Homo sapiens: one gene and its partner. The protein of the gene in region 2 interacts with the protein of the main gene of each other region in a pairwise test. Each region holds a gene or a part of one and is shown on either strand. Other genes may lie near its edges.

The links. Proteins that work in one complex are often made in the same cells at the same time.
Region 1: the proteins of TSHZ2 (region 2) and SPTA1 interact in binary tests that used the Homo sapiens proteins (3 or more experiments, as listed by UniProt).

What each region holds. Positions count from the first base shown.
Region 1 is NC_000001.11:158,640,880-158,648,715, reverse strand, and holds part of SPTA1 (spectrin alpha chain, erythrocytic 1), read left to right. Parts: intron 1-62; coding exon 63-207; intron 208-995; coding exon 996-1,177; intron 1,178-3,121; coding exon 3,122-3,221; intron 3,222-3,330; coding exon 3,331-3,528; intron 3,529-4,319; coding exon 4,320-4,463; intron 4,464-5,220; coding exon of another isoform or gene 5,221-5,290; coding exon 5,291-5,394; intron 5,395-5,739; coding exon 5,740-5,902; intron 5,903-6,173; coding exon 6,174-6,305; intron 6,306-7,836.
Region 2 is NC_000020.11:52,966,847-52,976,399, reverse strand, and holds the start of TSHZ2 (teashirt homolog 2), read right to left. Parts: upstream 4,043-9,553; 5' UTR 3,107-4,042; coding exon 3,067-3,106; intron 1-3,066. UniProt on the Homo sapiens protein: Probable transcriptional regulator involved in developmental processes. May act as a transcriptional repressor.

The sequences.
Region 1 (7,836 bases), on a different chromosome or scaffold from region 2:
CCCACTAGCCTGCCTCTGGTACATATCCTTACTTTTGAACTCTCTACTCTCTTGTATACCAGAGAAGCAGATGACACGAAGGAGCAGATTGAGAAGAAATGCCAGGCCCTCAGTGCTGCAGACCCTGGCTCAGATCTGTTCAGTGTTCAGGCTCTTCAGCGACGGCATGAGGGCTTTGAAAGGGACCTCGTACCCCTGGGAGATAAGGTGAGACAAGTCCTTCAAAGCTTTTCCAACACTTTCCAGTCTATATTTAGCCGTATACCAATGCCCTCTTCTTTGGTTCTCTTTTTCAGTCTTTTATTCTTATATTTCTCTCTGTTCTGTGCCATATTTATTCTTGTACACTGTCCCTAAGGCAAGACCATGAAAAGGATATGCCCCATGACCATTAACATGGGGAAAAAACTTGTTAAACTCCTGCTGTCTGAGTGAGCACCCTATATCCCCTTGCCTCTTTGGTGGGTTACAAGTGACCAGATCTTGTGGCAGCTAGGTGGAGGCCAGTAGCCCAGAAGAAATAGCAAATGTCCATACCCAGGATGATCAGGCCAATATCTGAGTATGGTGCATGTTTTTCTTAGCAAGGAATTGAATGAGTTGTTTAACTCTGTTTCAACCCAAAAGTGTACTCTGGAGCTTGTCAGATATACTCAGAGGCTTGGCATTATCATGCAGAGCAAAAAGAAGCTCCTCACATGAAGAATCAAGACCCTTGGGTTTCCTAATTGAGGTTGCCACTAACCAGCAGAGTCACTTAACCACTCTTCCCCACAACTCTCTTATTTTTAAAAAGAAGTATGGTAATGCCAATTGTAACTACCTTAGGGAGTTATGTGGACTAAAAGGTTGATATTATTTTGTAAAGTATGATGACATACTTGTACATCACTGATATCTATTTGAGGAGCTGAATACTGGGACTCAGGATTCTCCTTTTGCTAAGATTCAGGTGTGTCTCTAGGCTGATTATCAGAGCTATTGTACCTCCCCAGGTGACCATACTGGGGGAGACAGCAGAGCGGCTCAGTGAGTCCCATCCAGATGCCACTGAGGACCTGCAGAGACAGAAAATGGAGCTGAATGAGGCCTGGGAAGACCTGCAGGGGCGTACAAAGGATCGTAAGGAGAGCCTAAATGAGGCCCAGAAATTCTACCTGTTCCTCAGCAAGGCCAGGTAGAGTGGGGTGGGTAACTTCCGTGTCTGGCCTCTAAGTAGACTGTCTGGGAGCAGTCTGGGTACAGATGCTGTTCACTGCTGGTTTTGGAGGGCATCACTACGTTTAAGTCTCACCTCTTGCAAGGCATAAAAAATTTCAGGTTTGAAACTAGAAGCAATAAAATACAAAGTTTGAAAGAATATGAAGCCATGTAGGCCAATTAAGTAAGCTTCTATAATGTAGAAGCTTTTTTGTTCTACTGAAGAGACAGTAGTATTCAGTCTTCTACTGTATTCAGTATTCTGTTGAATACAAATAACTATGGTAGAACATAATGAGGCCGAAAACACACATTGTAACAAACAGCAGTGGGAATTCAGAGTTGGGTAGAATAGATGATGCACTGTAGATAAAGTAACATTTTATTACACCTTATCAGTCAAACTTTTAACAGAAGAGAAAACAATTCATGTAGACTGAACTGTGCAAAAAAAGACATAATCATGAGAAAAGAATAAGCATAAGAACATGTTTGGGGAGGGGGTGGTAAGGAGAAGTAGTAAGAGATAAACTTAAAAATAATATTGGGACCAAATTCCAGAGAACTGTGAATATCTTACTAAAGTCTAGACATTATCACAATCCAAAATTCACCTCTCAAACATATACTTTGTGGAACAGTTCCCACGTTTGGCTCTATCGCATCAGTCAGCTGAGAGGAGCATTAGAGTAGAGGGTCCAGGAAGTTGTAGCTCTCAATGCAATGCTTTTCAAGAAAAAAGGAGGCAAATTTTGGCAAATGACTGTAGTTCCTCTTGGAAATCCCCTCCCCAGTTCAGCACTGGAAAGCTATAGTTTTTGACACAGTTTAAATAAATAGCACCCACACCCATTCCAATGGTGCTTCCTTCCCTTTATGAAGCTGTACTCCTCAGTATTTCAGAGTAGTGTTCCCACCCCTGAGCAACATTAACATCTTATTTTACTCCATATGATACTTTTGCTTTCAGTTTTGTTTTTTAATTGCTATTAGTGCCTATGCTCTGTTTTTTGTTTGTTTTTTGTTTTGTTTTGTTTTGTTTTTATCCATTCTTAACCTAAAGTATGAGTTCCTAGAAGGCACAGATATGCCTTTTTCACAATGTTTGGTACTTAGTAAGCACCCAATAAAACTTAGTTGCTTGAATAAATAAATTTACAAAAGAAGAGACCTCTCTTTCCTAGAGCTAAGGGTTCCTGTTGAGCAAACAAGAGTAATGACATTCTTTATGAGATGCTTAATTTATACACCATATATGCTTTAAAGTTAATGCATAGTTAAAATTTGCCTTTTAAGAAGATAGACCTTAGTTTTGCTCGTCTAACTTCCTGACTACTAAAAGGGTAGGGAAATAGACCTTGATTTAATCAACAGTGTGGAGGCCTGTGTGTGTATGTGTATGTTGGCCAAAATATGTGCTAGATTCACTTGAGAATAAAAGTAAGAGGAAAGACATGATTTCTTTGAGACTCTGTAATAAGATGTATCTTCAAACCCTAGAAACCACTTAAAAGGAACAGTAACCAACAGAAGTAATGAAATATATAACAGTCCAGGATTCCAGAGGTCTAGGTTTTATTGAAGATGTCTGCTTTTAGTTATACCACATAGGCAGATTAATTACCTTTTCTAAGGTGACTTCTTTATCTCCATAATGAAAACAAAAAATTCCCGGAATCTCTGCAGGATTACTGCAAGAATTGAAAAAGATAATAAAAGTGAAGAGGCTTTCAAATACAAGGGATTGTTATCATTAGGTGATATAATAAAAACAGCAAACGTAAGATCTGTAAAGCATATAAAGCCAGATAAAAAATGTTATTCTGGAAATGTTTTCTAGAGAATGGAAAACTGTAGGACAAACAGCACTGTAGCAAGTTGCAAGGTTTTCTTGTCAATTCCAATGTGTCTGTTTATCTAGGGATCTGCAGAACTGGATCAGTAGCATTGGTGGCATGGTATCATCACAGGAGCTGGCCGAAGACTTAACTGGCATAGAGATCTTGCTGGAGAGACATCAGGTAAAACTACAAAAGTCACAGCCACTGATCACTTGACCTGAAACCTCTACTAATTTTAAAATTTCCAATGGAGTTGGCCTCACTGATTTCTTCCCCCTTTTTCCCACAGGAGCACCGTGCTGACATGGAGGCAGAGGCTCCCACCTTCCAGGCCTTAGAGGACTTCAGTGCAGAACTTATCGACAGTGGGCACCATGCTAGCCCTGAAATTGAAAAAAAGCTTCAAGCTGTCAAGCTAGAGAGAGATGATTTGGAGAAGGCTTGGGAAAAACGCAAGAAGATCCTAGACCAGTGCCTGGAGTTGCAGGTACAGCAAATTTCCCAATTGTTAAGCAGGTTCAGTAGTCTGTTTCTCCTATGCAATTTCATATGGTCATTACAGGCTCCGTTCACTAGACTTTCCACGTTATAAACACAAAGGGAGCTCATCTCTTAATTACCTAGCATTGTACTATGCTTTCTATACCGATCATTGTCATATTCTCTGCTCTTTCTTGTTAGAAGAGCCAAACAAGATGGTGATCAGTCCTGAGCATGAGGTGGGTTGACTATCATTTGTTGATTGACTGAGGAATTGATTGGCTGATTTTTGTTGAGACTCTACTCTGTGGAGGCTCGGAGTGCCACAAAGATTAGTAAGATAGTTTCCCATTTCTTAAATAGTGAAATTAGACATATAGATAAATTTTACTAGTACAGTGAGATGATTATTAATAAACCAAAATGTACGAGTGCTTTGAGGCTAAAAAACAAGAAGTGATTAAAGCTTTTGGGGGAAGTAAGTGGTTGTGTCACAGGCTACCCTGAAGGATAACGTTTCACAAAGTCTTAAGGAAATGACCAGCCAGTATTAACAAGGTTTAAGAAATAGGAAATAGCACCCCAGGAATTGGAGGTAGCATATACAGAAACATAAAGTGTATGTTTGGAAAAGAGGAAAAGTTCCAGTACAGCTAAGATTTGTCACATGAGTGTTTCTTGGAAGATGGTAAGTACTCCTTGCAAAACCCTTTGTGTCATGATCCTGAAAGAGGTGTAACATCATTTCCTCCACACCACATGGACTATACCATACCCCTCTCATTTGATTCCTCATAGATGTTCCAGGGGAACTGTGATCAAGTTGAGAGCTGGATGGTGGCACGTGAGAATTCCCTGAGGTCAGATGACAAAAGTTCCTTAGACAGTCTGGAGGCTTTGATGAAGAAACGGGACGATTTGGACAAAGCAATCACTGCCCAGGTAATAATGACTAGTAAAGGAATTAAAATAATAATCCGTAGTAATAATAACAGAAATCCTACACATTTGTCTGGTTTTATAATTTATAAACATTTTGATTTACTTTTTTTTTTTTTGAGATGGAGTCTCATTCTGTCACCCAGGCTGGAGTGCAGTGGTGTGATCTCGGCTGACTGCAACCTCTGCCTCCCGGGTTCAAGTGATTCTCCTACCTCAGCCTCCTGAGTAGCTGGGATTACAGACACCCACCACCATGCCCAGCTAATTTTTGTACTTTTAGCAGAAACAGGATTTCACCATGTTAGCCAGGCTGGTCTCGAACTCCTGACCTCAAGTGATCTACCTACCTCGGCCTCCCAAAGTGCTGAGATTATAGGAGTGAGCCACCGTGCCCAGCCCTGATTCTTGTTTGCTTCTTACAGAAAAACTGAGGCAGGCAGGGCAGCTTGACACTTGACATTGTTTCACCCAAGTCACAGGCAGCAAGCAGACTCTCTTACTTTAAATCCAGCATTCTAAACTCTGACTTTTAGGATTGATTAAATAGTCATTTCATCATCTCACTCAATAAAGGATTCACCCTCTACAATGGTCATGAGAAGTGTCTGTTCTTTAGGGAACTCTGTACCACACAAGTAGCCCATTATTAGATGTTTCTCCTCCTATTAAGTTGAAACCCACCTCCCTGTAAGGCATATATTATTTGACCCTGAGTATATCTTCTGAATCCACAAAGGATACCTTCATTCTTTTCTAGGAGGGAGTCTGGGATTGCACCAAGAGCCTAATCTCCAAGCATCTGGGCTCTTTCCTTTTCCTTTATTTAGGAAGGGAAGATCACTGACCTAGAACATTTTGCTGAGAGCCTCATTGCTGATGAACACTATGCCAAAGAAGAGATTGCTACGCGGCTCCAACGTGTACTAGACAGGTCAGGCCTGAGTGATTGTTTTATGTGCCAAAGGAAGATATAGCAAACTGACCTTTTTGCTAGCATTGAGATGGGGGAATACTCTGGCTTCCTGTCATTTCTAGGTGACTAAAACTATCTTGACACCTATGCAGACTTTCTGACTTAGATTTATAGAATGAAAGACATGAAAGATGAAAGATACCTTAGAAATTAACTGGCTTTAGCACTGCATTTTATAATGAAAATAATAAGACTATGTGAGAAGAAAAGAGGCATGTTGGCAAATGGGAAGATTTATGGATATGGCATCAGAGCATGGGAAGGGTGGAGGAGGGCATAGAGTGATTTGGCTCCGTCCTCTAGGTGGAAGGCTCTCAAAGCACAACTGATTGATGAGCGGACAAAGCTTGGAGACTATGCCAACCTAAAACAATTCTACCGAGACCTTGAGGAGCTGGAAGAATGGATCAGTGAGATGCTGCCCACAGCCTGTGATGAATCCTACAAAGACGCCACTAACATTCAGGCAAGTTCAAAATAGGAATCTTGGAAAATTTCACCATTCCGAGCTTGTTGGTTGGATAGTCATCACCCTTGATACTTTAACACTTTCTGACTGTTGAGGCTACCATGCCTGCTCTCAGAGACTTCAGAGTCTGATGTGGAGCAGGTTCTTCAGAAGTCACCGTCACCTCAGTTATGATAGAAATATTAGCCCTTCCTTTTAAATACAATTTACCTTATCTTGTCACCATAAATAAAAAGATAATATAATTTCTGTTTCATTTTCCCTTCAGAGGAAATACCTGAAACACCAGACCTTTGCACATGAAGTCGATGGCCGATCTGAGCAGGTGCATGGCGTCATCAACCTGGGGAACTCCCTGATTGAGTGTAGCGCTTGTGATGGCAATGAAGAGGCCATGAAGGTAAAGCTCAGGATGAGTTTTGGGCTACAAAGTCACATGAAGAGGAATCATTTACTCTTTCTTTTTTTTTAATTTATTGTATTTTTTTTAATTTTATTATTATTATACTTTAAGTTTTAGGGTACATGTGCACAATGTGCAGGTTTGTTACATATGTATACATGTGCCATGTTGGTGTGCTGCACCCATTAACTTGTCATTTAGCATTAGGTATATCTCCTAATGCTATCCCTCCCTCCTCCCCCCACCCCACAACAGTCCCTGGTGTGTGATGTTCCCATTCCTGTGTCCATGTGTTCTCATTGTTCAGTTCCCACCTATGAGTGAAAACATGCGGTGTTTGGTTTTTTGTCCTTGTGATACTTTGCTGAGAATGATGGTTTCCAGTTTCATCCATGTCCCTACAAAGGACATGAACTCATCATTTTTATGGCTGTATAGAATTCCATGGTGTATATGTGCCACATTTTCTTAATCCAGTCTACCATTGTGGGACATTTGGGTTGGTTCCAAATCTTTGCTATTGTGAATAGTGCCGCAATAAACATATGTGTGCATGTGTCTTTATAGCAGCATGATTTATAATCCTTTGGGTATATACCCAGAAATGGGAAGGCTGGGTCAAATGGTGTTTCTAGTTCTGGATCCCTGAGGAATTGCCACACTGTCTTCCCCAATGGTTGAACCAGTTTACAGTCCCACCAGCAGTGTAAAAGTGTTCCTATTTCTCCACATCCTCTCCAGCACCTGTTGTTTCCTGACTTTTTAATGATCACCATTCTAACTGGTGTGAGATGGTATCTCATTGTGGTTTTGATTTGCATTTCTCTGATGACCAGTGATGATGAGCATTTTTTCATGTGTCTTTTGGCTGCATAAATGTCTTCTTTTGAGAAGTGTCTATTCATATCCTTCACCTACTTGTTGATGGGGTTGTTTGTTTTTTTCTTGTAAATGTGTTGGAGTTCATTGTAGATTCTGGATATTAGCCCTTTGTCAGATGAGTGGATTGCAAACATTTTCTCCCATTCTGTAGGTTGCCTCTTCACTCTGATGGTAGTTTCTTTTGCTGTGCAGAAGCTCTTTAGTTTAATTAGATCCCATTTGTCAATTTTGGCTTTTGTTGCCATTGCTTTTGGTGTTTTAGACATGAAGTCCTTGCCCATGCCTATGTCCTGAATGGTATTGCCTAGGTTTTCTTCTAGGGTTTTTATGGTTTTAGGTCTAACATTTAAGTCTTTAATCCATCTTGAATTAATTTTTGTATAAGGTTTAAGGAAAGGATCCAGTTTCAGCTTTCTACATATGTCTAGCCAGTTTTCCCAGCACCATTTATTAAATAGGGAATCCTTTCCCCATTGCTTGTTTTTCTCAGGTTTGTCAAAGATCAGATGGTTGTAGATAAGCAGCATTATTTCTGAGGGCTCTGTTCTGTTCCGTTGGTCTATATCTCTGTTTTGGTACCAGTACCATGCTGTTTTGGTTACTGTAGCCTTGTAGTATAGTTTGAAGTCAGGTAGCGTGATGCCTC
Region 2 (9,553 bases):
CTGGGGTACTGTAGGCTGCTTTCTCAACTTTTTTTTTCTTGCCCTAAGTAATAGTATGGTGGAATAGCATAGCTTAAGAAAGCCAGGAAGAATGACATTTCAGAGGGAAATACTCTGATTTAGCTGTTTCCTTAAAGAGAATTGTCCCCTCACATCCCTTCCCCCTGAAGGGGGAGGAACATAACAAATAAAGACTAAAATTCCTCATCACTTACAATATCATCTTGTTTATTCTGTTTAGATACCTGCTTTAGTAGAAAGTTCTGTAATTGATTCCTTGAAACATGGAACTTATAACTAATAATACAAAGGAATCAAATTGCCTGGAACAGTTCTTGGGAAAAAGAGCGCTCCGGGAGAGCCTCAGCTCGGATCCACTCACAGGCTTTTTCTATCTCCCATTATTCATTAATCAAGCTAGAAATCAAGCTTTCAACATCAGTCCTTGGGTGTAATTACTTACAGTTGTGCATTGTGTTTAATTTTAAGCAGTGATAAAAGTTAGTATGGCCATAATCTTAGAACCCACCTTCTCCCCTTCCCTGGATGTTAACTGACTACAGAACCCCAAAGTGGCTAACTTTACTTGTGAATAACCACTTCAGCTGAAATAGAGTAGGGCATTGATGACCTTAGATGAACAGAAGAAACACTGCATGAAAAACTGTCTCCTCTATTAATATGTGAGCAAATAAATAAGGTAAGAGGGCCCTCACTGTGTACGAAATGAATCATCCTTTTTCAGCTTAAAAAGGGTTTCCGCTTCTGGTGAAAATAATAAGAATCATACAAAACAAACATACAAAGACAGTAGGAATATAATAGGCCAGAAAACTGAAACTATAGTTACAAGTTTCTAACACACACACACACACACCCCCACACACCCACACACACCAATAAACTAGCCAGCACCAACAGACACAGCTTAATGAAAAGGACCTGATTTAAATAATGTGATACAGTGTTATGTTACGTACACCTGGATCCTTATCGATCGTAGGATAATTATAATCAAAGTCGAGCAATTCTGAGCAATGCACTTTTTGTAATGAGCTTACTAAAGGAGACATGTCCAGTCATTCTGGTAATTTAAATTACTGCCTAGTTGTTGATAGTCTTTACCGGAACAACCAGAAAAAAAAAAAGAGTAATTTTCAGGGCAGTATCACTTCTTGCTGGACCGTAGCCCAGGGTTCTCTTTCGGGACAACAATAAGGACGTTATCTCTAATAATGTAGCTACACTTAAACTTATGTTGCCAGAACTAGATGCAGCAGGCTCACTGTTCCTGGGTCTCAAAGGCCATTGAACACATCCACACGCTGTCAGATTGCAAAGCAGCCTAAGTTTTAGGAAATCAGTGAGTTAAATGCAGAAAGAGACAACGGTAGGAAAGAGACATTGTTTTCCAAAGAAGTAACTAGAGTTGAAAAAAGAAAACCTCACTGATGAGGCAAGTTCCAAATACGTACCTCACTAAAAATATTTTAATTATTTTGCTTTTAGGGAAACGATCAGAAAATATATGAATCCACGCTTTATCAATATTTCTGCATGCCACTTGAACCAACTTACAAATAGGGAAGCAATTCTGTGCTCAGAAGGAATGATAATTGTGGATATTTTGAAACACTCAGGCGAGGAAGGAGGATGAGCTTGGTGGTTCAACACATTCAGACAAGGGATGCCCACTCTCCTCAGATTCCTAACTAACTTTGGATTTGTTCTAAGGGTGACTTTGCAAAGTTTATGAAAGTGTTCCACCAAACTTCTCCCTATGTTTTGCTAGAGTTGGAACAGAATGAAATGTGGAGGTGGGTCTGCAGAAGACCAGTCTTACCTAATGTTGCCTAAATCAAGAGGGTAAAGACAGAGAGAGAGGAAAAAACAACTAAACTTAAGCTTTTTGCGAAAGCCCTGATTCAACTAAAGGACACAAAGAAATAAAAACGCCCACATTAAAAGCCAAACAAGATAATAATTGTGCATGTCTGGCTCTGAATATAGAGGGCAAGGTTTGCGTCACTGGCACTCTGAGTTACCATGGTGAGTGATTTATTGATATATATCAAGAATGAATAGATCAAAGGCAGCGAGATGACAGGTGATCAATCAAATGTCAAATCAAAACTAGCAATCAAGTGGAAAGCTGATTTTTCAGTGGGTGGGTCTGGCAGAAGAAAAATGAACTTTCATATTACATTTCCGAGAAACAAAACCCCAGCATACTATTAAAAAAGCAATTAAGCAACCCAAAAGAAAAAAAAACTTTAGAAGGTCTATTGTACTGATCCATTAACCTGTTCTTATCTTTTTTAGGGGGCAGTAAGGATTCAGATGGGATAGTTTTTACAGTACGAATCATTTCACAAAGTTTGCAACTCTCTAGGCAAAGAAAATCCAGAGCTGTTTAAATTTCTATGGGGAATTTCCCCCCTACAACCCTTTTTGGTTTTTTTAAAGAATAGGGAAATTGTTAATTACATTTCCAAATATGGATCCTTTTAGAAAATATATGCAAAGAGTCATCCATTTCCTGGGGGCATTTTGTCCACCTTGGTGATCAACGCTAAACTCCTATTGCTGGCCCCAAAGCCTGCCTGCAGCCCGAGTGTTAGGTATGCCTCACACTTCAGCGCCCCAAGCCCCAGTGAGAGGAGACGCTATCCCTGGAGGCCAAAAGCCACTGGCACTGACCACGCAGAGGGATGCAGGGGTGGAGGGGCTGTCTCCCTACTCCGCACCCCAAATCCTCAATCCGACTTTGGCCCGAGAGGCAAGAAACAGACTGGAAGAAAGTTAGGGGTGGGGTAGAGGGTGGAGGAAAGAAAGTTTAAGGAGGAAAGGCTTGGTGGGATAGCTCACCCCAACCCAACCGGAGCTTGGAAGGGGAGGATTTGGGAGACCAGAGAAGGCGAGAGAGGACGGGGTTATTAGAAGGGCACCCGGCGCAAACTCCCCCGAAAGCTTAAGTGGGTGGTGCCCCCGGGCACCCAGGGGCAAGGAGGGCGGGCGAGGAGCTCGGCGCACAGGGCAGCCCCGAAGCGGAGCCGTTTCTCTTACCTGCCGCCCGCTTGGGTGCCTGCTGTTTTCTCCTCGGCATCCTCTACTTCGCTCCAGTCCCACTTCTGGCGCCCCAGCCCCGAGCCGCGCGCTGGGGCCCGCTGTCTCTCTGGCCTCTCTGGGTCTCCTCCGCCTCTTGCCCGGTGGCTCCTAGGACGTCACTCGGCCTCTGTCCCCCTGACGATCCCCCCTGCAACTCCTCCACCACGGGCCAGAGACCCCCCTCTCTGGGTGGCAGACACGGGTGGCTTGTGCCGGCTGCTTTGAAGTAGAGGTTGGTTCTGCCTTGTTTGTTTGTTTGTTTATTTTGAATTTTTTTTCCTCTCTCTTTTTTGTTTTTGCTTTTGGAATTTTTTTGGTTTTGTTTTTGCGGTTTTTTTTTTTTTTGGTGACTGTTGAGACACTTGATTTCTTTATTAAACATCCAAGCCCGGGTTCGGATGGAAGGGACGAGGGGCGCACACGCGCCACAGGCACACTCGCGCGTAAAGATAAGGAAAAAAAAAAGGCAATCCTGGGAAGGTAGTGGGTTTCTTCTTTTTCTTCTTCTTCCTTCTCCTCTTTCCCTCCTCCTCCTCCTCCTCCACCTCCTCCTCCACCTCCTCCTTCTTTTCTTCCTCCTCCTCCTCCTCCTCCTCGCCGATCTCTATGGCGGATTCGTGCCGGGGGGAGAGCGATCACTCACTGTAGGTTTGTGGCTGCTGTCAGATCCCCGTCTGTGAGTGATATGCGAGAGGACAGGAGCGGGTTTTGGAAAGACAGAAAATCTGGAATTCACTCACTCACACACACACACAGACACACACACAGACACTCACACACGCACTCACACGCGCACGCACCCCCGCTTCCTCGCACACACACACTCACACCCCCCACATATGCACACACACACAAACACACACACACACCCTCGCACACACACACAAGACAGGGCGAGGCGATGCCAGCAAACATCGATCCCGCTGAACAAACTGAACATTAACAAACTCCTCCTCCTCCTCCTCTCCCCGCGACCTGATGACAGGGAGAAATTTACTCCCCAGCCGCAGAGCGCCAGGCAGCGGGAGCCTATTAAAGGGACAGCGTCCCGCAGGGGAGAGGGGCTGGGGGCGGGGGCCCCGGCGCGCCGGCCCAGGCCCCTCTGTGCGCCCTCTCCGCCGGGGCGAGGGCGTGCCCACCGGGCGCGGGGACACCCCTCCGGGAGGCGGAAGGGGCGGGGGCGGGAGGAAAGGAGGTGAGGAGGGAAGGGGTGCGGGAGAAAAGGAGGCAGTGTGATGATGGCTGAACTCTGAAGCTGGGAGGCTGTGGAGGGAGATTCAGGGGGGCCAGGTTGGCTGACCAGCAGGGACCATGCACAATCTTAGGAGAGGGAGAACTTAGGTTTGCTCGGGGCTGGGAAGGGGGAGGGGACCTTATCCAGTGAGGATCTCCATCCTGTAAGTCTTAACCTGCCCCCACCAAAATGTGCTCCCCACGACCCCTTCAATTTAGTGCCCCTGTCCCTCCCACTTTCTCGCTAATCAATGGGTGGTCACAAAAACAAAAATCTCCCTTCTGTCTACTTTAAGGTCTAATCATATACTCCTCTTTTTGTTTCCTTTGAAGAATGTTTATTGAGCATCTACTATGTGCCTATTCTGGAGACACAGAGGCCACAGAGAAAGGGAAGGTGGTGGCCATGTTGGTATTTATATTCTAATGGGGGAGTGCAGACAAGTGCCCCCCAGCTATCCAATCTTTGCTTAAATGTCCCCTTTTCCCAAAGGTCTACCTCACCTAAAATACACACACACACACACACACACACTCCCTGCCCCATTTCTCCATTTTGTTATTCCCCAGTGAGCTGATCAGTGAGTGTCACACAGGTTATAGACAGTTTTCTATTCTGTTGATTGTACAAGTTCCCCTCTTGAATGTAAGCTCCAATGGAAGGAAGGATTTTTGCCTCTTTGTTCTCTTATATCCCCAAGTGCTGGCAAAGCACAAGACATATAATAAGTGCCCAGTAAAATATTTGTTGAATGAATGAAAAGTAAGCAAGCAAATAAACAGGATACTTTGAGTGATTCGCTCCATGAAGACGTTAAGCTGAGTGCTGTAATAGTGTCTAAAAGGGGGTGGGTGGCTCTAGATTCAATGTAGGATATGGCATTTGAGCACAGAGAGATTGAAACAAACATGTGATTATTGAGTTCTGCTATCGGCCAGGCACCTTTTGAGGTGTTGGGGGCAAGTCTGTGAACAAGGTGAACCTAGACCATGCCCTCAAGGAGTGCTCCTTCCAGTGAGAGGGCAAAGCAACTGAGGGCATTTGATGCAGGCTGGGACTAGAGGTGTTTTTTTTTGCTTTATTATTTTTTTTATTTCAATAGCTTTAGGGGTAAAAGTGGTTTTCGGTTACATGGATGAATTGCATAGTGGTGAAGTCTGGGATTTCAGTGCACCCGTCACCCGAGTAGTGTACATCGTACCCAATAGGTAGTTTTTCAGTCCTCACCCCCTTCCCATACTCCTCGCTTCTGAGTTGCCAATGTCCATGATATCTTTCCATATGCCTTTGCATACCCATGCATTAGCTCCCACTTATAACCAAGAACGTGTGGTATTTGGTTTTTGATCCTGAGTTACTTCACCTAGAATAACGGCCTCCAGCTCTATCCAAGTTGCTGTGAAAGACATTATTTTGTTCTTTACTATGGCTGAGTAGTATTCCACGGTGTATATATATGTGTGTATATACACACAAACACACATATATATACACAAATACACATATATAGATATATATACCACATTTTCTTTATACAATAATCAGTTGATGGGCACTTATGTTGATTTCATATCTTTGCAATTGTGCTGCAATGAATATACGCCTGCAGGTGTCTTTTTGACATAATGACTTTTTTTCCTTTGGGTAGATACCCAGTAGTGGGGTTGCTGGATCAAATGGTAGATCTACTTTTAATTCCTTGAGAAATCTCCATACTGTTCTCCATAGAGATTGTACTAATTTACATTCACACCAGCAGTGGGTATAAAAGTTCCCTTTTCCCCACATCCACACCAATATCTGTTGTTTTTTGACTTTTTAATAATGGCCATTCTGGCTAGGGTAAGGTGCTATCTCACTGCAGTTTTAATTTGCATTTACCCTGTGATTATTGATGTTCAGCATTTTTTCATTATGTTTGTTGGCCATTTGTCTGTCTCCTTTTGAGAAATGTCTATTCACGTCATTTGTCCACTTTTTAATGAGATTATTTTTTTTTTTTTCTTGCTGATTTGTTTGAGTTCCTTGTAGATTCTGGATATTAGTCCTTTGTCAGATGCATAGTTTGCAAATATTTTCACCCATTCTGTAGGTTGTCTGTTTGCTCTGATGATTGTTTCTTTTACTGGGTAGAATTTTTTTAGTTTAATTAGGCTCCATTTATTTATTTATTTTTGTTGCATTTGCTTTTGAGGGCTTAGTCAGAAATTCTTTGCCTAAGCCAATGTCCAGAAGAGTTTTTCTTAGGTTTTCTTCTAGAATATTTATGGTGTCAGGTCTTATGTTTAAAGTCTTTAATCCATCTTGAGTTAATTTTTATATATGGTCAGAGACAGGGATAGTTTCATTCTTCTACATGTGGCTATCCAATTTTCCCAGCACCATTTATTGAATAGGGCAGGGGTCCCGAACCCCTGAACCATGGACTAGCACCTGTCCATGGCCTGTAAGGAACTAGGTGGCACAGAAGGAGGTGAGCAGGTAGGGGTAAGCAAGCATTACCATTTGAGCTCTGTCACTTCAGCAGGGGCATTAGACTCTCATGGGAGCTCTAACTCTATTGTAAACTGTGAATGCAAGGGATCTAGGTTGCACACTCCTTATGAGAATCTAATGCCTAATGATCTGAGGTCAAACAGTTTTATCCCAAAACCATCCACCCTGCCCTGGTCCATGGAAAAATTGTCTTCCATGAAACCAGTCCCTGGTGAAAAAAAGGCTGGAGAACACTGGAATAGACCTTTTCCCAACTTATGTTTTTATATGCTTTGCCAAAGATCAGTTGGTTATAAGTATGTGGTGAAGGTGTTCTTAGGAGGAGTGATTACCCTGAACTTGGCGAAAGGAAGGATGGTTACCAGGCGGGGCTTCAAGGGAAGAGGTAAGTCAAAGCTGAGTCTTACATATAACAAACGGGTAGGCAAAAAGGGAACTCTGATACTGAAGCCCTTGTATCAAAAAGACACCGTGTAAGGCTTCTGCTTCCGCATTAAAATCTCCTGAGGCCCTTGTTAAGATGCACGTACCTGGTCCTTGCCCTAGAGCAAGATTTTCTAACCCAGGCCCTATTGACATTGAAGGTCTGATAATTCTTTGTTAGGAGGGGCTGTCCTGTTCAATGTAGGATGTTTAGGAACATCCCAGGCTTCCGTTGTGACAATGCAAACTGTCTCCAGATACTGCCCAATGTCCCCTGGTAGGCAAAATCGTCCTTGGCTTAGCATCACTACCCTAGATCTTCTGAATCAGAAAATTCCGGATGAAGGCTTAGAGATCTGTATTTTGAACATGTAACCCATCCATCCCTACAAGTGAAACTTCTGCTCACACCAGTTAGAGAACATCTGCCCCCAAATTGTTTGTTCTTTTGTAATCAGACATACTCAATGTTGTTAACTATAAAGCCAAGTCAGGCTTAGATATTAATGTAACTTAAGGGTTCAAGGGGTGATGTTGTAATGGTGGCCGTCGCGATGGGGTTTCACCTGTGCCCACTCCTCAATACTCCTCCTCCCACCATGATCACCCCCACCCCACCACCCCAGCAAGGCCTGCCCAGTCTGATCTGGGACACTTCCCACTACAACCCACCCACCTGCTTATGGGGAACTACCAGTTCTGACTAGTTCCATGAATATTTTTCTTAACAGTTCTTTGGGCTGTATGACACTCAACTTTCCCTATCCTACTTGTCAGCCACAAAGTGTTGTTGTGATTGTTTGCAAAGTGCTGTTTAATCATTTTTAACATCCTCACGCACTTCTCCATCTCACATGTGTGGTACAAGTTGTTAACTCACTTGCCCTAAATCACCCGAGAAGCCTCCACCCATGACCAACTCCACCCAGTCCCAGCCTAGTCCTTAGGCAACTGAGGCAGAAAAAGCCCGATTTCATAGTTGGCAATGTCAACAAAAAAGGTATTAATTCTAATTACCCAATACATTTTTACAGAGCACTGTGCAAGGGACCATAGCCTATTGAATAAAACCTCACAGCCTTGCAGCCAAGGAACCACCGTTGTGGGATTAGGGGATACTTGTTTATAGGATCAGGAGGCCTGAACAGAAGAGGAGTGAAGCTGCAGCAACCTCACCATGAAGCCGCCATGCTCTGTGCAAGCCCCATGCCTGCTGGTGTGGTGTTTGTGTTACATTCAGCCAGTTATTTCACAGACATCTACTGCGCCTGTTAGGTCTACCAGGCCTTGCCCCAAGCACAGCAGATTTTGGAATGCATAAGGTAGGATCATCACCTTCAAAAAGCTTTTGGATGTTATAATAACATCCCAAAGACTGGGAACTAAAAAAGAGGGAATTTGGAAGCTGGGTCCAGCCTTGGAGACAATCAGGAAGGAAATGGGCAGGAGAAGATGACTTTGGATGACAGAATTTCCCTGAGGTTCTATCCAATATCCTTCTCAGAATTTTACATCCGCTCTCTCCTTGTTCTCAATAGCTGGTTATATAATGTGGGGGACTTGTAACAATTCTGCAGTACCTACTTTCTGGCTGGCTATTAACACATTGTTGGATCTACATTTCTGAAATGTTCTTTTATTAATTTGTATTTTTTCATACCGTTACTAATAGTTAGCTTAGTTATCCACGAAAATGGTTTTGGCTTACACCAGCGGGATGTATAACACTATGTACCCAGTGCTGTAGACAAGATGTTAAATAATATTGAATCACATAGTAAGAAAGTTATTCCCTTTCAATTCTCTTTCAATCTGATAAAATAACCATTTTGTGCTCGTGTCTCTTTTATACCTAATGCTTGCTAACTTCTATTTTTCAACAAAGATACCACGGATCTTAGGCTCAGAAGCTTGGGAGGGACAAGAGTATCTAGCTAGACTTTTAAAAATGTTTTGTTTTCAAGCATATGAAAAAAGCCTCATCATCACTGATCATTAGAGAAATGCAAATCAAAACCACAATGAGATAACATCACATGCCAGAATGGTGATTATTAAAAAGTCAAGAAACAATAGATGCTGGCAAGGCTGTGAAGAAATAAGAAAGCTTTTACACTGTTGGTGGGAGTGTAAATTAGTTCAACCATTGTGGAAGATAGTGTGGTGGTTCCTGAAGGATCTAGAATCAGAAATACCATTTGACCCAGCAATCCCATTACTGGGTATATTCCCAAAGGATTATAAATCATTCTAAAATAAAGACACATGCACATGTAGGTTTATTGCAGCAAT